4 linked regions of the Homo sapiens genome follow. The protein of the gene in region 2 interacts with the protein of the main gene of each other region in a biochemical or structural test. Each region holds a gene or a part of one and is shown on either strand. Other genes may lie near its edges.

Region 1 (7,042 bases), on a different chromosome or scaffold from region 2:
AGAAAACAACCCAACAACTTAGGATGATCCAGCAGAAGTTACACCTAGTTGAAGGTGGTACCATTACTGTTTTATTCAGTGACCTTATTGCCCTTTGGCGAGTGTGGGTGCAATGGGGGCAGATATTACTTCATGTGATAAAAGACAAACAGAGAGTCTTCTAAATTTTATTTAGAATAAAACCAGCATGGTAGAAATACATCAGTGATACAAGTGAAAAAGAACTTGATTCCTTAATAAAATGACTTACAAGTGCAAAAATGGACCCCATATGTGCTCTGCTTTACTTACACCCAACTCTAACCTGCGAGCATATTAGGAAAAAAGAAGCAAGTGCATCCAATAAAATTATTTGTAACTTAATTTGTATGAGGCGGGACAAGGTTGCTTTTGATCCAAGTCTGGTATTTCTTGGTTAACAGGGTGTAGATTCCAGGCTTTGTGGCAACACCACATTCATGACCTCCAGAGACTATAGCGTGGAAGACACCTTTACAGATCAAGGGGCCCCCTGAGTCACCCTGGAAGGAAGAAAAAGGGCAAATACGTGGTAAGAAGCTGTTGGGATATTTTTGTTTTTTAACCACCAACTGCTGATTGCTCAAGGGATTATCATCTGGGTCTTTGCTTTCTTTATGTCCAGAAGAGTGTCTGACACTGCCTCTTACTCGTTATAGGTTGTCCATGTGCCTGTCTCTGTCAAGGACTATGTTTCTGCCTACTTGCTTCTCTGTTTATGTCTCTATCTATGACTATGACTATGCCTCTGCCTCTGTCTCAGTGTCCATGTCTATATCTCTGTTTTGTCCCTATCTATGTCTACATTCCTCTGGGAATCAATGACTATTGACTATTTATTAAAGAATGGATAAAGTTTTAAATAATCCACTGAAATAAAATAATCTTTTAAAATTGTAGATTTCATTTTGATGCTCACAGACCTAAAATCGAGTTGTTATTGAGGCTAGCAGAAAAGAGCAATGTATTGTAGTAAATGTCTTCATGGCAGGAATTATATGTTCTCTGTTATTTATTTATTTTTTGCATCCTCACATGGTTGGACATAGTGTTATGTATATGTACCATACTTAGTAAATACTTAGTGAATGAAATGATTTTTGAAGACACTCTAACAGCAAAGCATGTAACTAAATTCTATCAAGTGAAGGGAAAGAGCTATAGAGGGGATGGCATGGCCTTTTGATGAAGAGCTGGCTTCTACATTTGAAGACCAGCCTTTCTCTTTGCTAATGTTCACATTGCAAACTGCAGTGCCTTATACTTTGGTCAACCATGATAACCGATGTTTAGGAGGGTGATGGTCTTGGGTACTGCAGATGCACAAGACATTTGAAGTCATCATATCCTCTCCCCCAATTATACTTAATATAGTATGAGATGAATACTGTATTCTAATTTTTAAAAAATTAGTAATTCATTTGTGCTATATATTAGTATAGTTCATACAAACATGAACACCTATTTTTTTCCTTACCATCTCAATAAACAAATGATTTTGAAAAACATAATGACTCTTGTTCCTTTTTTTCTTTTAAGACAGGGTCTCATTTTGTCACCCAGACTGGAATGCAGTGGCAAGATCTCGGCTCACTTCAGCCTCAACCTCCTGGGCTCAGGTGATCCTCCCCCCTCAGCCTCCTGAGTAGGTGGGACTACAGGCGTGTGCCACCACACCTGGCTAATTTTTGTATTTTTTGTAGAAACGGGTTTTCACCATATCGCCCAGGCTGGTCTCAAACTCCTGAGTTCAACAGATCCATCCACCTTGGCCTCCCAAAGTGCTGGGATTACAGGTGTGAGCCACCATGCCCGGCCTTTTGTTCCTTTTTGTTAGTCAGTGGTATGGTCTGAAAGTCTGATTCCTCCGAATTCATATGTTGCAATCCTCACTCCCAAGGTGAGAGTATTAGGAGGTGGTGATTTTGGGAAGTGATTAGGTCATGGAGGTGAAGGCTTCATGAATGAGATTAGTTCCCTTATTAAAGAGGCCTAAGAGAGACCCCTCACCCCATCTACCATGTGAGATTAGAGTGAAAAGAAGCTGTTTATGAACCAGAAAGTAGGCCCTCCCCAGACACCAAATGTGCTGGTGCCTTGATCTTGATCTTGAACAGAATAAAGTTCTGTTATTTATAAGCCACCGAGTTTATGGTATTTTGTGGTAGCAGCCCAAACAGACGAAGACAGTCAGTCAGCATTACTTATGAAACACATACTGTATATTTGAGCTTTTTGCATTTGAGTCTTTAAGGCCTCCTTATTGATTAATCTGCAAGGTGGTTCTTTAAATAAGTTATCTTCTAATCACCACTAGTGACTTCAGGGTTGGTAGACTTTGTAAGGAGGATAACACCTCTCATAGGAAGCCTGTAAAAGTTGTCAGATATGGTCTATTATCCTGATTAACAAACATTTAGTGGGTGCTTATAAAGTATTGGGGAAGTTTTTACAATCCATCCACATTGGTAGATGAAAAAGAATAGAGAATGCTGTGCAGGAATGAAGAGAAAGTGTTTAGAATTGTGGTTTTGTATTCTCCATGCCCCTCCCTCCTCCTCAGTGTCAGTGAGCAATAGAGGCTTGGCTACTGTACAGCGCTCCAAGATGCCTGTTTGAAAGAGAGATTCTTACCTTACAGGAATCCTTCTGGCCTTTGGCATCTCCTGCACAGACCATGTCTTTGGTGATAAAAGGGTCGCCGTTGTAGTAACTTTGGCTGTTGCAAAGTTTTCGACTTAGGACAGTAACAGTGACTTCTCGCAGGGTGTCAGAAGGTCTTAATGAATCTGGATCGGTGGCTCCCCAGCCAGTAACCTTGCATTTGGTTCCAGATCTAAGAGAGGTTTTGGATCTTATGTGGAGCATCTTGACATGTTTATTGAGTTTTGCGGCTGTTTGAAGCTGACAGATTGAAAAAAGATGGAATTATTTCTTTCCCAGTAGTATTCTGATGCTAGCCTGTGCGTCGTATGTGTGGTCCCTCTGTCTTAGGCGGGCGTCCCTGTTCTGGGATCTACTTTGGTGGTGGCCTGCAGCTGCATTTGTGGTTGTTGCTTTTCTGACCATGCTCTCTACTCCCCGAGGAGCTCACTGAGGCTTGGGGCGGGAGCTTATAGAGAGCAGGAATTTGTTCAGTCTCGAGCAAACTGGCCTTTGCCCTGCATTGGATGGTTTTGTGTGGAATAACATCCATAGGTCATGACTTTGAGGGCTGGGCTGCTTCCTGCCGGATAGGACCCTTGAGTATGGTCTAGACCAAGTTCGGACTAAATTAAGTGTGGTCTAGACTAAGCTGTAACTCACTGCTGAGCCCCCGAAGTCACTTGGTTGGCTCTGTTGTATAAACAACTGTTGTATTTTTTTACTTGCTAATGAGAAAAGCATTTGGGAGAAAAGCTTTCAGTGTGGATCCTTGGGCCTGTTAAGATGTTCCCCTCCTACATATGTTGAGTATCAGAGTTGCTTTTCCTTGTATAAACACAGCCCTGGTGCATTTGTGATAAATTCTTGTTTCTTTCAAGACAGTATATGGAATAACATGGGCCCTTATAAAATATATCATAATCACCTCAAACATGGGGAGGGTGCTAGCAAAATGCATTTTGTAGGTGATTTAACTAATTGAGCCATCCTGTATAAAAATGTTGACAAAATAGAAGGAAGACAATGCTACTACCTACCTTAACCAGCATGATATCATTTGATTGAGGATCTGATGTAACTCTTGAGAATGGTATAAATTTTTTGATCTCCAGTGTTTGTTTGGAGGCCTCATTCTTTGAGAGAGAGTGTGCGCCTAAAACCACAGTGGGAGACTGGCCTTTGGTAAACCTAAAAAAAGCAAAGACAATGAAAGCAGCAGAATGATTTCCAAATCCCCCAGTGGGGAGTGGTGATGGTCGAGAGGGTTGTATACACAGAGAAACAAGGGCTATCTCCAAGGTAACCTGCCTAAGATTAGGTGGAGTGACAAAGGTCTTAGTGGAGCCCAGCATGAATTGATATTAAGGGCCAAATGACTTGCCCTTAATCCCACCCTAAACCAATTCCCTGGCATTGCAAAAGAATATCAGAACTTGTATCCAACTGGGGGAAGAAAAAGGAGTGAAATCCTAATTGACTTAGATCAAGTTTAAAACAAAATTATGTTCATTTATGTAAAAATAAAGCAAATTATATTCCTTGAGTTTGTAGTTTGAGATTTACACCAACTACCATTAAAATTTGTTTATTGTGGTAAAGTATACATAATGGTATAAGAATGGTAAAATTTACCATTTTAACCATTCTTTAATGTACAGTTTGGTGGTATGAAGGACATGTATATTGTTGTTCATCCACCACTATCATCTCCAGAACCCCAGAACTTTTTTTATCTTCCCAACATTAAGTGTTTTAATAATTAAGGTAGCCAGGTGTGGTGGCTCATGCCTGTAATCCCAGCCACTTGGGAGACTGAGGTGGGAGGATCATTTGAGGCCAGGAGTTTGAGAGAAACCTGGGCAATACAGTGAGACCCCCATCTCTAAAAAAACATTAAGGGGCACACTGGTGCATGCTGGGCATGGTGGTGCATGCCTACAGTCCCAGCTGTTTGAGAGGCTGAAGCAGGAGGGATTGCTTGAGTCCTGGAGCTGGAGGCTGAAGTGTCACAGCCTGGGTGACAGAACAAGGCCCCATCTCTTAAAAACAAACAAACAAACAAACAAACAAACAAACAAAAACCACAAAGATCCCCACCCTACACTTGCTCACCCACATGCCTAGACTTCATCTCAGGTCAATGTGGGGAAGTAAGGCCTATTACATGACAGTCAGATATGTCCATATGTCCTGTCCCCTCAATTAGAACAAAGATTTGGACAAGAAAGGAAAACTTTCCTCAAGGTAAGAAAACAGTGCTAATTTAAAATGAAGATACTTTAAGGTTAGTAGCCATTCCATCGGGGAGATTTAGAGGATACGAACTGGTGAGTGAGGTGAAGAAATAGGTTTGTTTTTTGGCTTTCTTTTTTAACGTTTTTTTTTTTGAGAAGGAGTCTTGCTCTGTTTCCCAGGCTGGAGTTCAGTGGCGCCATCTCGGCTCACAGCAACCTCCGCCTCCCAGGATCAAGCGATTCTCCTGCCTCAGCCTCCCGAGAGGCTGGGACTACAGGCTTGTGCCGCCACACCTGGCTAATTTTTGTATTTTTAGTAAAGACGGAATTTCATCATGTTGGCCAGGGTGGTCTCAATCTCCTGACCTCAGGTGATCTACTGGCCTCAGCCTCCCAAAGTGCTGGGATTACAGGCGTGAGTCTCTGTGCCTGGCAAGGTTTGCTTTTTAAATCTCTGGTCATACACAGTTCTAGTACCAGTGTTTCAACAGTGCCACAATTGATCTGATTTACTCTTTGTTGGATAAAATTACATTTACAGCAGTGATAAAGTAGAAATAATTTTTTGGAGATTTTGGCAGAACCGTAGAGCCATTTGTATACTACAGATACATTCCATTACAGTGTCTATCTTTATGAAGTCCACCTCAGATCTTTTAATTGTATTTGTTTGTTTACATGTAACTATTTCTTTGCTACTTGGAAAAGCTACCAAAGTAGATTGCAGTAAAAACACACATACTCATGCATATAGATTAATAAAGATTAATAAAAGTTACAAAGAGCACAGAAACATACAGAAAAAGGAAGACATGATTGTTTCAGATTTGAAAATGGCAAATGCCTGTGGTAGAGTGGGTTTGCTTATGGCAGAGCTGTGACTGCCTGGAATGACCACTTTTTGGTTTCTACCAAAAGAGTTTATTTTTATTTATTTTGGGAATTCCAGCTCTATTTGTTGAAAAGTTTGCCTATTGCAAAATCAGGACCGGGTGGAAATTTCTCATAGGATGTGGACTGGATTTCCTAGGATTGATTTGAATTCAAATTCAACATACCCACTAAACCCAAAACTTTGTAGGAGAAGGATGACATAAAAATCTTCAGGATGAATGCTCTAACAGAAAGGTGGGCACGTGCCTAAATGACTCACACAAAGAAGGCTATGAGGTACAAATGAGAGGTATGGAGGGTGGATTCTCACTAAGGGAGGGATGCTGAAAAAATGTCTGGGTTTCTTTCGTCTTTTACTAATTTACTCGGCTAGTTATTGCCTTTGAAATGTTTTGGTTATTTTTGTCTCCACTGGGACATGTTAAGACCAAAAACAACCCAAGCAGACCATTATTCCTTCTGACCTTTCAATTTCTAGATATCCTTCAACTGTAATCTGTGCTACTCAGGTCAAATTTTCTGCCCACAGGGTACCTGGAATTACTTGAGTTCTGGGATGCCACCTCCTTAGCTAAACTGAAGTCTGAATTCACACAAAGAGGAAGTAATAATGCCAGTGTTTTTCAGTTGCACAGCACAGGATTTCCCCAAATGCAGTCTTCAGACTTGCTTCAGAATCACCTGGAGGTGTTGGTTTAAAATGTGGTTTCCGGAGTCCCACCCTGAGCTTTCCTGGAAGAGATTCATATATGGAGCAGAACTACAGTGCGGCTTATAGTGGGTCTGCTGAAGACATCTGTAAACATTGTCTCCATTGAGCCTAACAATAACCTTTTTCAAGGCTGGTAAAGCTGACGGGCTGTGTATTCCTTACCAGTAAAAGATTGTTCTCTGACTGGTCCAAGGTGACACACCTCATAAATAGGGGAATCAGGACCCAAATTTGGCTTTTGGTGACTCCCAGTCCAGTGCTCTTTCCTCAATCCCTCTTTGAACCCCGTGCCAACCCCCTTCAAGCCTCTTCTTTTCTCTGCCAGCGCGCCTGGACACTCAACAGTGGTTCTGCTTAGACCCGCCCCTTGAGGTCTGGCAGCAAAGGCAGGGTCCCTATGTCTTGGAGATTTCTCTTGCCTAAGAGAGAGGGAGAAGAACTTGGCTGTCAGAGAGGGAGGTCTTCCCAGTCTTATCTCGTCAACATCAGATTAGTTCCTTGGTTATTACCATGGAAGGCACAGATAATTGTATAACAA
Region 2 (4,717 bases):
GCCCCAGTGGCTGCCTGAAACCACAGGAGTATCAAGCCCCATACAATTTTTCCTGTACCTGCCTATAAAACTTAATTTCCAAATTAAGCACAGTAAGAGATTAACGGTATAGGATAATTTTGACTATTGTATACTATAACTATACATTCACACATTTAACATACAGTATAGGTGTGAATGTAGTCTCAAAGTATCTGAATTGTAGTTGACCACATGTAGCTGAAGCTGCAGATAACAGGACCCACTGTACTCAATTTTCTTCCTAGTGAAAAGTCCTTTTGAGACTTCAGAATGAAAATGCTATACTCACCCTCTCAGAAACTGTTTACTCAGAAACTGTATCCAAGTAAGATATTTGAATTTGTCCTTTACTCGGACACCGACCAGCTCAAAGCTTTCTAAACCAATGTCATACCATTAGCGCTAACCCACGCTTCCCCAGTCACTAACGATGTGAAGACAAAAAACTAGAACAATTTCTGAATCCAATAGCAAGTAACATTTCTCTATAAAACAAGGAGAATGACCCCAGTCCAAAAAAAATCTTTATGTTCCTTTATTGGAGCAAGATTCCTGATCGGTATACAGTGATGTATTTACTAAACAGAGACCTGTGCAGAAATTACATACTATCCATCTAGATAGGTTGTTACACTTTTGCCTATTGATGGAATAGTTCCATTTATCAAGTTTTATACATCAAAAAGCTTTTGAAGTTCACCAGACTGTCCATTAATTCACCTCTGAAAAAGTGGCATTTAATTTCAGCGACTATATTTTACAGCATTAAAAAGCTTATGCATTAGGGTGCTTCTCTGCACAATGGCATTGAGCAGACAGAGCTGAGTCCATTATCCCACCCAGATTCACATGGTCACATTTGAGAGCTTTATACCAGAAAGCAGGGACAGTTACTGCTCACCATCAGACTTCTTACTGAGAGCCTATCTTCTTGGCCACATTTTATATAGCCAATGAAGACATGCCAGCAACTGTCCCGTGTATAACTTGGCATTAGAGCACCAGGTCTGTTGGATGGTGGTGGCAGGCACAATTAATTTATATCCAGGTAAAAGGCCAATTTTAAAAACTGCCACTTGGAGATAAAAATCAAGGGCACAATGTACTCAGAGAGTATTGAGCTATCTGGTATCCCAAATGATGTGAATACTTTCAGAAACCAATGGCAAATTGAACCCACGTTTCCCAGCTATGGAGATATTAATACATTGATTCAAATCCCATTACTCAATCCACATAGCCCTGAGGTCATCCTGCAAAGTGCGTATCAAAAAATACGAAGTTAGGGTGACAAAGTTTGACAGTGATGTTATACAAGTCAAACTTGGAAGGTCATAGTAAGCATACCTATGCTGAGAGAAAAGCATCAAATCCTTTGTGTACACATTTAGTTTTATTGTAACAAAGCAACTTGTACACTTTTAACGTTTAAAACTGAGCATCATCTTTCCTTTCCAGTGAAACAAAAAGAAAATTTAAAAATAAACAGGAACAAAATTACAATAGAGAATGTCAATTCCAAATAAGATCCTACAGGTTCTGCTGATTCTCCCATTGAGTGGCAGGGCTCAAGTCATCATTAGGAGAGAATTTATTTTAAAAGTGTCATCTTAAACTGCAAGGATGTCTGTCAAATATCACAATTAAACATGCCAAAGGAGAAGCCATGTTGTCAAAATGCCCACTTAACCCACCCAAACATCTCAAACCCACCCTTTGCTGACCTTCTATAACCCCATTTTTTTAAGTTTTTTTTTCTTTTTTTAAACAAGAGAAAGTAGACAGATACATGTTGGTAAATGCTAACTGTCCATATTCACATAGAGACACAGTGTACTCTCTGAGCCCAATATACAGAGAAAGGAGGAAAAAAGCTAGAATTCTATGCACTACTACACAGGGGCCTAGCACCCTCCAGCTTCCAGCAGAGCGAAGGGAGCAGGTTTTTCTTTTTTCCCACAGAGCTCGGTGGTGTTGATTCCATACAGTTTTTGTTCAGACAGGAAGGGATAAAAATGAACTTCGAACAGAAAGGGGTAGAGACTCTTTTCCCATTGTATTCTGCTCAAGGTATTTCCCCCCAAATAAATTGAGAACCATGGAGTAGAGAAAAGAGACCTCAAGAACAGGGCGACTGAGCACAAGAGGGAAAAAAAAAAAAAAAAAAAAAAAAGACTGCAACTTGCTCCCAGGGACTGGAGAAAATTTAAAAAAAGGAAGGTTGGAATCCATCAGTGTTCTATTTAGTCATCTTCTCCTTCATCCTCCTGAAAGAAAAAGTGGGCAGTTAATCTTCAGGATTAATGCTGAGACTTGCTTTCATATGGACCACAATGGACCCCACGAGTGCCCCTGGGGGCACTCCAGTTTCTAAACCTGTAAGTCAGCTGCATCGAAGGAAACACCCGTGATGATGTTGCTTCAGATTAATTAGTAACTTCAGTTCTAACCAAATCAGGTATATTTCGGATCAAATAATCCGAAATAAAACCAACCTATCCTAATTTGACTATTCAGAAATTGTGCAGTTTGTCGAAAATACATGAAACTTTGTTATTTCAGAGATGTCAGAATTTGACCAGCTACACTGCCTATATTGCCTAAGTACTGGCTAGGGAAAAACAAGCTTGGGTGGTGATAAGTCTAACCAAAAAAACCCAAAAAAAAACCAAAAAAAACCTAGTTAAACATTAGTACCATGTGCTTATCAAACATTTCCTTAATTCTTGAACAACAAAATGGCTTACTTTTTTTCCACAATCAGTTCTGGTCAGTTCTACCACACTATATATATATATATACACCCCAAAATAACATGAATTCTTTAAAAGTTATCTTTGTGGGTTTAGCCAAATTTTCTTTTACCTCTCCTTCCTCCCCTTCATCATCATCTTCATCTTCTTCACCTTCATCCTCATCCCCTTCTTCGTCAATATCTTCTAATCCTTCCTCCTCTTCATCATCATCATCATCTTCTTCTCCTTCTCCTTCTTCATCATCCATATCGGGAACCTTAAAAAAAAAAAAGCACAATATAAGGACTCATTTTTAAACAACCGAGACAAGTCCAACCTTGAATAAATGAGTATTAGAACTCACCAAGTAGTACTGTAATGGGTTTGGCCAAATATCATCTTTGATGACCTCTCCTAACTCATCAGCACCTGCATCAGAATGGTCAGTAAACCAGGTAAAGAAGCTCTCTGGTTCCTCATGCTGCCTCTTCCTGCTGGCTTTATTCTGCGTTTGACTCGAACGTTTCGTCAAATCCTAAATGAATACCGGAAGAGCTTTTGATACAATCTCTCCATAACACCCAAACTCCCTATAATTTAAAAAATAAGATTTTCCCCAAAAGCTAAGCAAAACAAATATCAGTATACTATCTACGCTACCATTATTACCTAAGAGCAATTATAAAACTGTGCAGCAGGTAGAGGTAGTATCAACTACATTTGGTTTTCCATAAAATTAGTTCCACTGTTAACAGCCACTAGCACAACACAGTATAAATATCTAAACTATGTCTTACTACCTAAATACGGATGTAAATGATTTTGAGAAATGGCAAGCCATTTGAAGAGCTCAGTCACCACTGCAGAAAACAACAGCAACAAAAAATTTAGTCCAGTTCTCAATTCTTAAACTTGGGCTAGATTTTTCTCTTTTTTTTTGTTTTTTGGAAGGTAAGGGTCTATGTTGCCCAGGGTAAACTCCTAGGCTCAAGAGATCTTCCTGCCTACATCTGTAGTATCTAATGAGAACCCTAAACTACTGTAATACTTGGCTTCAGCACACTGGAACGTTTTATATTTTAAGGTTTTGTATTTAGCCACATGACCAAAGTATCAAGCACTTGTAAGTGGTTAAAACTAAACTGAAATAGGCAAAATGCTATTTTTGTCAAATAATTCCTCAAAACATACCTTTCCAGATTTCCATTTGATTTCGGTGGACTTCGAAGATGGATCACCACTCTCATTCAGATGAAATTCTTTGGAGAGAACTTTATTTTCAAAGTAAGGATTTTCATCAAAATACTGTAATAAATAATTGAAAGATTAGAAATATGAACAGGTCTTCCAACCAAAGCTCACATTAATTTCCACAGTGGCAAACAAGATTAAGTTAGAGATACTTACAAAATCTATTCTGTAACCTGATTTAATATCTTCAAATTCTGTCACTTCAACTCTGGTCAAATAATGCAGTGCCTCTTCATCTTCCTCCCCAAGCAGTGCAGACACTAGGCCAGAAAATTACAGGTCAGCTGAATTTTCAACAGGCACACACTAACAACAATTTAAGTGATCCCTTTAAAATTTTTCCGAACTTAGTGAGCATCTTTGGTTTTATAAACCCATTATTAACTAAAGGCAATTGCTCAATATCAGACTGTCACTATCTTTCATCAAGCAATTAGAATATAGCTTCTCCTAAACAGAATAGAAAGCAGTAGCTGTATATCTTTTCCCGTCTTTGAGGTTTTTTTTTTTTTTTTTTTTTTTTTGAAACAGTCTCACTCTTGTCGCCCAGGCTGGAATGCAAAAGCGCACAATCTCGGCTCACTGCAACCTCCCCCTCCTGGGTTCAAGCGATTCTCCTGCCTCAGCCTCCCAAGTAGCGAGTAGCTGGGATTACAAGCGCGCGCCACCACGCCCAGCTAATTTTTTTTGTATTTTTAGTAGAGACGGGG
Region 3 (7,042 bases), on a different chromosome or scaffold from region 2:
TGTATTATCAATATGTCCTAAGCATATTCTCAGCTGTGCCCAATGAAATACATTTGTTCCTATATACAAAATTTATTTGTATTACCAATATGGCATAAGTATATTCTCAGCTGTGCCCAACGAAACATATTTCTTCCTATATATAAAGATGTTTCTAATCCACCATAATTAAAGCATAGACTTTAGCTTGTTTTCTACTCTTCCTCCTACACCCTAGTGATGGTGACAGGCATATTATATACAGTCACATATTAAATGAGCCTTCTCCAAAAGCACATTCGTATAGCTTCCTTCTCAATGTTAGCTTGTAAATCAGCCAAAGTTACGTTCATAACAGTAAGAAAGTTCTCTGTAGAAAATCTTAGGATGTGAAGGATTAGAATAAACAAATCATAGGTTAGAAACGGTCAAACATTATCTATTCATTCTAGCCATGTAGAGAGCAGCAAGGTGGAGACCATGTAGCTCTCACAGAGGTGCCTCATGCTCATTAGAAGTTCCACCTGCTGTTCATAAGTCTTACAACACACAAAGGACTGTCAAGCATTTGTCAAATATTTCAGACAAATGAATCATATTTCTGTAAGAAAAATGTAAACTGGATATTGAGGTTTTTTAGAGTTGGTAAATGAATAAGACCATAATTCACATATGAAAAATTAATTTCATTACAGTTTCAGCTTGTATGCATCCATCTTCTCTGAGAAAATGCAAGGACATATACTGTACCTATAGTAACCATTTTTATTATTCCTGAAACTAGTATGCCAGAATTGCTAACATCTTTGTTTTGTTGTTTTTCCTGAGATGGGGTCTCACTATGGGACACAAAGTGGTTTCAAACTCCTGGGCTCAAGTAATCCTCCCACCTCAGCCTCCCAAGTAGCTAGGATTACAGGCACACTGCATGCCACCGCACCCAGCTAGTAACGTTTTACTAGCTGGGAAGCAGTGGTGTCTGTAGTGTTACTAAAATAATTTGTATTTCTAAACATATCATACTACCTTAGTAAAAAACAAAATACTTTGCACACAGATTTTTGCCTGTACCTATATAGAAAGCTGGAAAGAATTTCGTTCCCACCCTAACATAGAGAAAAAGCTTAATAAACTAACTCTCAAGTCCATGAGAGCTGAAGTCACAGGGCAACCAAGTAGCTTCAATCCCAACAAGGAAAGACCCCTCCAAGGAGAAATGGGCCTGGCTTGCTTTTAGTGCAGCATGGAAAGAAAGAGAGCCACCATACCCCACTCAAAGCACAAAGCAAAGGCAGACCACACCCAGAATTTGAATCCTATAAAGTAAGGTTGGTAACCAGAGCAAGAAGAAAACCCAGCTTAACTAATGAATAGACTGACTCAACCCCACACTAACAGCCTGAGAGGAGATGTGGCTCTTGCGGGAGTAACTGATGCCTGATATTTGTAGAGCACTTTAGAAATTACAAAGCACTTTGATGCGATGTTCACATGATACTTACAACAATAAGATGGGTGTTACAATGCCCACTTCATAGAAAAGGCTCCTAAAAGTTAATTGCTTGACCTAAGTTAGATAGCAAGGGAGTGAATTGGAAAATTAACCCAGATCTTCCTACTCTGCTCAAAGAGACCTCTTGATAATTGTGCTAGATGCCGCTCTACTCATAAAGTAGAAAAATGACAATCCAAATCACCTTTCTGTTCCTTGTCATCAGTGTATTGATTTTTATTTTCTTCTTAATCAACATTGTATTACATTCACTGAGACTACTAATTCCAAAATAATAGAAACCATATTCAAAAGTGAATTGGAGAATCTCTTCAGGACACCTTAAGCTCCCTAGCAATGGACTGCTTACTAGTGGTCACTGTAAGATTTATTTTCTTCATTTCTGGACATACTCTGTGGTAGTTTCATTTCGGTACTGGCCACCTTTTAATAATTTCAGTGGCAGAAAGCAGGTAAGAATTTTACCACCCAAAATATTTCTTTTCTTTGAAGAAAAAATCAATATCCCTTTTCTTTGAAGAGAATTTTTTTCATATGCTAGTAGGAGGTATTCTTTCTCTTAAGTGGAGGAAATGTTTCACGCTTACAGAAACAGGTAAGTAAATATTAGTATAATATGAAGCTATTAAAGAACAGTGAGGTCAATAAAGAATATTTTGACACTTGAAAATCTCAGTAAACTTTCTATAAAACAAGGCCAAATGGTCAATTATTGTGAAAACTCTGTATCATGTATCTTAATGGCCCCCTAACAACACTCAAGTCAGGAGATGAAAACCGTTCACAATCAATATGAAATCACTGCTTCTAATCTAAGCACATAGTCCCAACTCAGGATTCACTCTTCCATTGAGCAGTTATGTCTTAAGCACCTAATATTTTTAGGTACCATGTTAGGTAAGCTCTAAATGAAGGCCATACTTCATAATTTCAAAATCAGCCAAAGCTGTGTCTAGATAAAACGAAAATAAAAACTGTACCTTTTCCTAACAGTAAACCAGCCACAAAAGCTTTCTCACAGGCCAAAGCTGTATCTTCCTTCCAATCACTTTTTGCCCAAAAGTAGCTGAAATGAAAGCCTGGCCACCAGTTTTTCCTGGAGTTCCACTCTTCTTGAACCCACGCAAGGTGGTTTCTGGAAAAGAAAAATGTCAAAAGAGAGGGTCAATGATGGAAACAAATCTATATTATCAGAATTTAGACTTAACTAGAGTCTACAGAAAGATGACAAGGAAGATGCTTCCAAGCTAAATTCTCAATATGGCCAAGGCATAACACATGATTGGCAACAGCAGGAAAGCAAATCCTTTTTTGTTCTCTTCCATCTCCATATCCCATTTTCCATTTCACTAAACAGACAGTTTAGCACAGTGGTTACAGAACAGACTCGAAGCCAGAATCCTGGATTCAAATATCAGCTCTTCCATCTACTATGTATGTGATCCTGGGCAAGTTGCTGAACCTCTCTGAGCTTCAGTGCCCTTGAGGACATTAGTGGTACTGATCTCATAGGAATGTTATTAAGATTAAACTATTCTAGTAGTAGGGTACAGCAGGTCTCATATAAAGCTCTTTGCATAGTGTCTGGTACATAGTAAATGTTCAATAAATATTATCTATTACTATTACTTAAGTAAAACCTTACTTAAAATTATATGCTGCCATGAATTACTATCCAAATGGAGATACCATTATTATACAAATACATTAAGACATATGTTAAACTGTTAAGTGCAGGCAATTCTGTGTGTCTGTGAATAATTTTTTTTATTGTATATATTTAAGGTATACAACATGTTTCATATACATATAGTTAACTTTTTTGAGTGGTGGGAGCACCTGAACTCTACTCATAGTAAATTTCCTATATGCAATACAATATTAACTACAGTCTACGTTGCACATTAGATCTCTATAATTTAATTGAGCAAATGCTTATTGGCACCCATGTGCCCCCTATGGTAGAACAAATAGAGGTTCGAAAAAATGAACCTCTTTGCTTTCAAGGACCTTATGATCTAGTAGAAGTTTATTCAGGGCTTCAGATTTAGAAAATGCTTTACAGTGAGTGCGTCAACATATGACACCAAAACCATTTTATAAACAGCACTGTCCCATCGGGACAAGTCAGATCTGAAGCCTGAAACAATTTCCAACTGACACTGAATTGCCTAACAACTAAATTGGATATAATAAATATATGAAACAACTTTGTAATATCCCTTCTTCTCACACACTAAGTAAAAATAACAGGAAATTCATTTTCTTTTACTCAAAATGTGACACTAACAATATTATGATCAGAGGTACACTTTTAGATACCCAGGTCAAAATGGATTTAATGAGTATTTGTTAAATGACTAGTGTATGATGATCTTGTCAGGTCCTAAAAATACTCACTGAAAATGATCAAACACAGGTAGGAGGAAAGCTGCTTCCCATGTGATCTTACAAGTTAATGACGCACAAATCACAAAGAGTCTTTAGCAAAGAGTGATCCCTGCTAGTCTTTATTTCCAAATGGAAAACACATACGTATTCCTTAGCAAGCAGTAGTGCTAAGTACAGGATTTATTTTGATGGCATAAAAAAATTGATAGAATTTTTGTATGTTCTCCTTATGACTCTGTATTTCTTTGCTTCAGAAGAAAATGTACTCAGAAAACAGCTGAAGACACAATTCAAGAAATTATAAAACATAAGCAAAGATCTTTAAAAATTGATATTAGCTAAAATATTGGGAAATATTATTTATGATGACCTAGTAATAAACACTGTATGTTTCTTACCCCATTAAGATATTTTTCAGATATTTTGCCAAGTATTTCCAAGCAGTTATATTCTTAGTGCATCCGGCAAAATCTAAGACTCCAAATAATACCTCCAACCCCAGTTTACGGTGTTCTTCTTTTTCTGCAATGGTTTTAACAGTTCAAGTTTACATAAGGTATTAAAGTGTACAAAGCTAAAATTTACATGTATACATTTTATCAACTGTATATATACTTTACATATATGTTGTTGATAAAATACTGAATCATAAGCCTTCTGGTTAACAGTTTTTAAAAATTCATTATGCTCTTACTCCTGCAATGAATCTGAAAAACTCAATAAAAATCCCTGCTAATGAGGTAATGGTGGTGAATTTGATCTCAATATGGGTTACACTCCTCTACTAAGGACATTATTTAAAGTACCTGCCCTGTTTGGGCATTTTATACATGTTCTTTCATATTCAGAGAGGAACCTAGGCAGTCCTAGGACCAGCTTGGGCTTAGCCAGCTGATTTTCTTCTATGAAGGAGCATGCTCTCTTCTATGGTGTGCTGAAATGTAGCAGGGATTAAAATGGAGTGAATTATATAAAATCGAGCCATTTCTCTTTTGCAAACTACTGCCTTCACATTGTGTAACAGGAGTAGGCAAACTTTTTCTATAAAGGCCCAGATAATAAATATTTTAAGCTTTGCAAGGCATACAGTCTCTGTCACAACTACACGGCTCTGTCACTATAGTGCAAAAGCAGCCGCAGACAATACAGAAACAGATGGACTCCAACAGAACTTGATTTATAAAATCAGGAAAGGGGTGGATTTAGCCGATGGGCTAAACTAGTTTGCTGGTCCCTAGTCTATAGCTTGTCTACACAAGGTATAAAACAACATTTATTTATTACCTGATTTTCTAAGTAATGTATGGAATTCCAACATCAATTTATGAGATGGTACAATCTGATACAAAATCTGAAAGAAAGAACAGTCTTGTAATCTTTACATACTTGTAAAAGCATTTCTCAAATTTCAGCTTACTTTCAAAATAAAGTTCTTACTGTCTAATATGCTCCCTTTAAATTTATTAAGTATTTTAAAAATACCCTGGCTCTTTATCTAGTTTCAATCTAAGTATAGAAAAGCATTCTCTGTAAAGCTGTCTTAAAAAAAAAAAAAAAAAAAAGGCCCTGATAACAAAATAGTCAGGAGAAGTGAGGAAAATAGGCAGGGACTTTTTATTTGCTCCTTATACATATCTATACTGTTTACCACGCTCAACAACTAAAAACGATTTCTTTCAGAAGCCAGGACTGAAGAAAAAAAGAAAAAAATCAATTATCACACAGAAAATATACTTATTTACTAAACAGAAGAGATCACAGAATATTTATATAAAGCAAAAAAGCTAAAAAGGCTGGGAGTTAATTTCACAGATTGTGCTCAGGAACAGTTTACTAAGGTTATATGAGTAAATATTTTAACAACCTTTCACACAATGAAAAAATTAAAGATTTTTCTTTTAAAAAATAGGAAGGACTATTTTTATGAATATTCAAAAAATGGAATTTAAAGTAAAGCTGTATTTTTCATTTTAATACATTTAATACTAGAAATGAATTCATTCTGCTTACTAAAGTACTTTGACCTTACATTGAAATAATTTCCAACAAAATTAAAAGTAAATTTTGTTAATTTCTCTTAATCATTTTTAAAAAGATCAATCAAGATCAATACACCAATATCAGAGAATATTATTGAAATTCAGTTCCTATGAAAGTCACATTTGTCTCATGATTTTATAGAATTCTGTATATGGCTCAATTCACTTAGATTTTTCTATTGAAATATAACATGTAGTAGAAGTGCATACAAATCATGACACCAGTCAGTTTTCACAAAGTTAAACACTCAGGTAACCAGCACCCAGATCAAATAATAGCACATCACCAGAACACTAGAAATCCTCCATTTGTTTTGAAAAAGTCTTAGTCATGAGCCCTTCAAATGCCAGTGTTTTTAAAAAATTAGTTTGCTTGCTTTTGCCCTGTTCTATTCAGAGGTCCTCCACCTAGGACTCCAATGACAGGTATGTCAGATCTTTTCACCAATTCACTTGTATGCTCGTTTCTGCACCTTTCATCCTTTTTGTTCTCCATGGTTTAGCCTGATATTTTCTATGCAGTTCATTAATCCTCTCTTTTGCTATGTCCAATCTGCTATTAAACCCATGTATTGAGATCTTAATTCCAAATACCCTATTTTTCAAAAGGAAAAACAGAATTTCTCTAAATCCATCTTGTCTTGAATATAAATATGAGATAAGTATTCAACAGTTATTTTCTGTAGCATTTTAAAAAATCTTTTCAAAAACACCATTAGTGATTGATAACCTGAAAGCACAGTCTTGCTTTTGTTTTAAACACAATCCTTAATATTTTGTAATATAAATGAGCCAAAAGCTATCTTAAGAGAGTAAAATAAAAATAGCAACTTTAAAGGTATTGTTTAGTCCAGCCTGGGCAACATAGCAAAACCCTGTTTCTCCAAAAATACAAAAAATTAGCCAGCCATGGTGGCGTGTGCCTGTAGTCCCAGCTACTCGGGAGGCTGAGGTGGCAGGATCACCTGAGCCAGGGAGGTGGAGGCTACAGGGAGCCTCACGTGATCATGCCATTGCACTCCAGCTTGGGCAACAGAGTGAGACCCTGTTTCAAACAACAACAACAGCAAAGGATTGTTTAGTAAAACAAAGCCTGTTGAAAAATTTATAAAACTTAGTT
Region 4 (5,149 bases), on a different chromosome or scaffold from region 2:
CCGTCTCAAGAACAAAGAGAACTGAGAAATCACCTAGGTAATCCAAGGCTTAAATGCAAGGCACTGAGAAAGAAGGCTGACTCTCTATTGTATAATTTTCTTGGCTGCCCAAGCACTTTATTTGTATGCCCTAGAATTTGGAAAATACCGTAAGGCATTGCTTGTTTCTTTTTCTCCCATAGACTCAGGTTCTTGTGTATAACATGAAAAGCAGGTGTTAATGTGGAACAATGCCCTATATTTCCTTTTAACACAAATGTTCCAGACTGGCTGTTTCTGTTTCCTGTGGAATTGTGGAGGCCTTTACTGCATTTGTTATTAGACCTGATCTTAGGGTTGTTCTTGCTGGATTTCATGGAGACAGAGAGATGAATAATTCAGGAAGCATTCCCATGTCACTTGACGCACAAATGACTCTGGTGACATTGATCACGTAATCCTTGCATTATCTACAAGGCTGCCATGTAACTCTGCTTCACTTTGCTGGTGCAGATCTGCCCACTAAGGTTACAAGAGAGAAACAGGTACAGTCATGCAAATTGATTTTATTTGTGAAAAGATTAAGAAGCCACAGTAAATGAAAGGAAACGGTTATTTAAACTGCTCCCTTGATAGTCATAATTATCCAGTTGAGGTGTTTCTTTGAGAGAAGAATATAGACACCAGGCCCACGAGGGTCTCCGCATTTATTTTCAAGGCCAAAGGAAGTGACCCCTCGGAAAACACCCTCGCACAACAAAGGGCTTCCAGAATCTCCCTGGAGGAAAACAAGAGGGGTAGGGTGTGGGGTCAGTGTTCAGCATTACCACTAGTGAAATGGAAGAAATTCTGCAGCATTTAATATGCAGTTAAGACCAACCTTGACTTAATTGAAGATAGTGCTTTAATTTTAAAAATTAAAATGTTTGGAAATATTTTAATATTTTTGAATTGGTTCACTTGGTTTATTTATGAGCCAGTGAAAATCGAAGTGAAACTTGTACATGTTATCAGCTAATTTTGAGACTATTGCTCTGCTTTTGGAAAGGAAAGTCTCCTGTTTATTTGTCGTTTTCTCAAAATGCTTAATAACTCAAGGGGCAAAATAGTCAAATGCAGATGATACATTGAAGCAAAGAATAAACACTATGTTTTGTGGTTCTTCTAGCAGATAATTGCCTTCCAAAAGAAACAAAACCAAATCAGTCCCTTTCAGGCAAAAGTTGGCCTTATAAAGATATGAAATAAAGAACCATGTTGGAACCCGGGATCCTCCCTGAACAGGTTTATTTCCCCTGCCTGTTACAGTAACTGGCATTTGCAGAATTAGTCCTTTAGGTTTAATTCATCAATAGCCAATTCCAGGGTGTTGAGAGAACAGGCAAGGATTGCCAAGTTTCGGTGGTGGCGGGTGGCTGGTGGGATGGGGACTAGCGTCTTGGGATGCTGCCGTGGCCTTAGGATGCTGCATGTGGGTTCCAAAAGCATGAAGGTTCTGGGTTCCTGGGAACCCAGGGTGGTGGACAAGGGAGGGAATGGGGGAACTAGGGCAGAGAAGAGAAAGTGGACAGGTACTGAAGACAAATGTTTTCTTTTCCTGGGATTTGGCTAGCTTTGGTTCTGAAAGCAAGACATAGATCTAGGGAAGGACAGAGACCTTTGGATTTCTCAGTCTCTGGTAACTGCCAAACCATGCATACTGCACACCCTTCTTCAGGTAAGGCTCTATAGGGTCTTTGGGACAAATGAGAAATGCAAGGTAGTACTCAGTTTAAAAATCTGCAAAATGTTTCTTCTATTCTCATCTTTAAGCATGGCCCTATCCCACCTCTTCTCAGGGGGTTCTAGGATGGAAGCTTACACATTTTCTGGTATGAGTCATGCTTTGAAGTTTGCTGCAGATTAAACTAAGCTCTAGGAAGCTATGGGGTCTGGCTGGAAATATTCAGCCAGGCTTGACAGACATTTCAGACATGCCGATGTTAAATGGCAGAGGAACGTAGTGGGGAAGGAGAGGGAATGTACTGAAATGGGGAAAGAGTACTGAGTGGCCTTGAGGAACCCTGACTTCAGCTCTCATAAGTGTTGTATATCTTCAAGTTTAGATCTACGTATGTTAACATGAAAAATGAGACCAAACATTGCTTCTTAGTAATTTTTGTAAAAAATCAAAAATATGTAGTAGGTCACCCCATGCACTAGCAGTGAACTTCTTATTTTTGATTAATGACTCACTTGAGCTGCGAGCATTCATTTATTTGACTGGGGTTTTATTAAACTTATTTCAAAAAGCTCTAGGATCCTGTAGAAGCCAGTGCCATGACAAAACAAAGCATGACATTACATTTTCTCTGTCTGCATGACTTAATTCAATAGCTGAAACGTGGGATCTTATTTTACTTACATTGCACGAGTCTCTTCCACCTCGGAGGCTTCCAGCACAAACCATATTCATTCCAATCACAGGGTTAAAATTATAGTGATTTCGATCATTGCAGACTTTTCTGTCTATGATGGTGATATTGACTTCTCTCAGAGTATCGGACCAAGATGCACTATTGTGAGTCCTGCCCCACCCTGCAACTTGGCACATGGTTCCTGGTTTCACATCGTCCCCCTTTTTAGGTAGATGAAGGATAGTCACATATTTGTTAATTTTTGCTTTTTCCATCAGCTGTTGGAAGAAAAACATAAAGTGTTAATGGGATAAGATAAATATTTACATTTTAAATTATAGTCCAAAATTTCAGGATCCTCTTTATTGTGAGTTTTTACAACAGGGGCACCAAGGAAAGGTTTTCACGTCGGCGGCCAGATTGTAGAAGGTTCTATGACTTTTGAGAAGACAATCAAAGATACGTACCTGTAAAAGTTTAAGGTCACCTTCGCGTGTGGCTGGGTCATAGCATGGATAGGGAAACTCTTTCTTAACAAGCATTATCTGTTTTGTTGGCTCTTCCCTGGTTATTGAGTGAGCCCCAAGAATGACCTGGGACCTTTTGTTCCTGAGAACAGACACAACATTATTTACTGGATTTATTCTTTGTATTGGCAGTTGAGCATATATACTGATCAGTTTCATTGTCCCATTTGTAAATATGGAGGTGGGGAGATTTCTTTGTGGCTCAGAAAGAAAATGTGTGCTTTAAAGAATAAAAGAATGTTTATGAATAAAAGAATGTTTATGAATTTATCGTCATCATCATCATCACCAGCTTATTTATAAAAAGCTAAACTAGGTTCATTGAAAAACAAGAGAATTCCATGGCAGCAAAGCCAAGTCTTGTGCTTATCTGCCCCCTACCCCTGCCTTATTTAGCTGTGATGGAGAATTACTTATTAGCTGTGATGGGAAGCAAAGATCTCAGTAGTCCAGAGACAGAAGCAAAAAGCAGCCAATAGTTGTAAAGTAATGCACTGAAGGGATCTTTTCAAGAAAACAACAAACTCAAATGGGAAAACTTTCAGAAACAGATTGCCCCATGGAGGACCCTATTTGCTTGGCATTGAGTGTGCTTGGCATTGAGTGTGTTGAAGGGATGGTGGTCTGAAGGAGGGGTCCAGGAGTCTTTTTTTCTCTTAAAGGTTCATTTTGGTTATCAAAATCAAAATGCTTTCTGATGTACTGATGATTGGATTAAGGCTATCATTCATAACCTAGTATAAACTACACCAACCAGATTATGCACACTGCCTCTTTTCCATTACATCAGCTGAGATTAGTCTCACTTAAATGGTCACATGTATCCCCAACATATGTGCAACTATTATATGTCAATAAAAAGTAAATAATTAAAAAATAAAAGAAAAAGACCTTAGAACAGTGCTTTCCAGTAGAGCATATTTTTATGATGAAATGTTCTATGAATCTGCACTAGCCACATGTGGCTACTGAGGACTTGAAATGTGGCTAGTGCAACTGAGGAACTAATTTGAGATTTTATTTAACTTTAATTGATTGAAATTTACATAGCTACATGTAGCTAGTGCCTATCATATTGAATGGCCTAGGTTTAGAGGCTTGATTTAGAGAGTAGGAAAAGACCAGGCCTGGGAAGAGGTTTGAATGTAGTGGTCGACAGGAGTGAAGAGATGGCCAAAGATGTGAGAGGAATTCACGGAGGCATACAAGAAGGTCATTGGACACAAGCTTTCTGTACTTGATGGTTGCACCCAGGGCTCTGAGGGGGCACTGAAAGTTTCACCCTTCCATGCTGAGGCTAATTCTACCTGGTCACGCAGTCATGACAGAAGCAAAGCTCTGCAGCACCTGTACCCAATGGCTCAGTGGAGATGTACAGAAAGAGCTTGTGGATGCTGCTTCCTCATTGCCTGATTCTTTGTGGCAAGTGTGGGCCTAACTTCCTTTTAGGCTCAAGCAAGTGCCCAAAGACTTAAGCGATGTGAAGATACATATGAACCTCCCATGGCTTCAGTGGGATCTACTTTATTTTATTTTATTTATTTTATTTTATTTTATATTTTATTTTATTTTATATTTTATTTTATTTTATTTTATTTTATTTTATTTTATTTATTTTATTTTATTTTATTTTATTTTATTTTATTTTATTTTATTTTTTATTTTATTTTATTTTATTTTATTTTATTTTATTTTTTTATTTTATTTTATTTTATTTTATTTTATTTTATTTTATTTTATTTATTTTATTTTATTTTATTTATTTTATTTTATTTTATTTTATTTTATTTTATTTTATTTTATTTATTTTATTTTATTTTATTTTATTTTATTTTATTTTATTTTATTTTATTTTATTTTATTTATTTTATTTTATTTTATTTATTTTATTTTATTTTATTTTGAGATGGAGTCTCACTCTCGTTGCCCAGGCTGGAGTGCAATGGTGCGATCTCGGCTCACTGCAACCTCTGCCTCCTAGGTTCAAACAATTCTCCTGCCTCAGCCTCCAAAGTAGCTGGGATTACAGGCATGCGCCACCACGCCTGGCTAATTTTGTATTTTTAATAGAGATGGGGTTTCACCATGTTGGCCAGGCTAGTCTCAAACTCCTGACCTCATGTGATCCACCTGCCTTGGCCTCCCAAAGTGCTGGGATTACAGGTGTAAGCCACTGTGCCCGGCCTACTCTTTTTATTAATGTTTCCCCAAATTAGAGTATCTTTACAAACTTTTTTTTAAAAACCC

Evidence for each region.
Region 1: of the proteins of SET (region 2) and GZMK, one has a biochemical effect on the other in vitro, tested with the Homo sapiens proteins (3 studies listed by BioGRID).
Region 3: the proteins of SET (region 2) and TAF1A form a complex in vitro, tested with the Homo sapiens proteins (one study listed by BioGRID).
Region 4: the proteins of SET (region 2) and GZMA form a complex in vitro, tested with the Homo sapiens proteins (2 studies listed by BioGRID, with this or other methods).

The regions. Positions count from the first base shown.
Region 1 is NC_000005.10:55,027,244-55,034,285, reverse strand, and holds part of GZMK (granzyme K precursor), read right to left. Parts: intron 3,853-7,042; coding exon 3,702-3,852; intron 2,923-3,701; coding exon 2,653-2,922; intron 522-2,652; coding exon 360-521; 3' UTR 1-359.
Region 2 is NC_000009.12:128,692,212-128,696,928, reverse strand, and holds the end of SET (protein SET), read right to left. Parts: intron 4,268-4,717; coding exon 4,164-4,267; intron 4,062-4,163; coding exon 3,948-4,061; intron 3,292-3,947; coding exon 3,121-3,291; intron 3,034-3,120; coding exon 2,887-3,033; intron 2,289-2,886; coding exon 2,265-2,288; 3' UTR 533-2,264; downstream 1-532. UniProt on the Homo sapiens protein: Multitasking protein, involved in apoptosis, transcription, nucleosome assembly and histone chaperoning. Isoform 2 anti-apoptotic activity is mediated by inhibition of the GZMA-activated DNase, NME1.
Region 3 is NC_000001.11:222,558,892-222,565,933, forward strand, and holds part of TAF1A (TATA box-binding protein-associated factor RNA polymerase I subunit A), read right to left. Parts: intron 5,235-7,042; coding exon 5,168-5,234; intron 4,406-5,167; coding exon 4,282-4,405; intron 2,628-4,281; coding exon 2,473-2,627; intron 1-2,472. UniProt on the Homo sapiens protein: Component of the transcription factor SL1/TIF-IB complex, which is involved in the assembly of the PIC (pre-initiation complex) during RNA polymerase I-dependent transcription.
Region 4 is NC_000005.10:55,105,629-55,110,777, reverse strand, and holds the end of GZMA (granzyme A precursor), read right to left. Parts: intron 2,985-5,149; coding exon 2,843-2,984; intron 2,654-2,842; coding exon 2,384-2,653; intron 758-2,383; coding exon 596-757; 3' UTR 526-595; downstream 1-525. UniProt on the Homo sapiens protein: Abundant protease in the cytosolic granules of cytotoxic T-cells and NK-cells which activates caspase-independent pyroptosis when delivered into the target cell through the immunological synapse. It cleaves after Lys or Arg.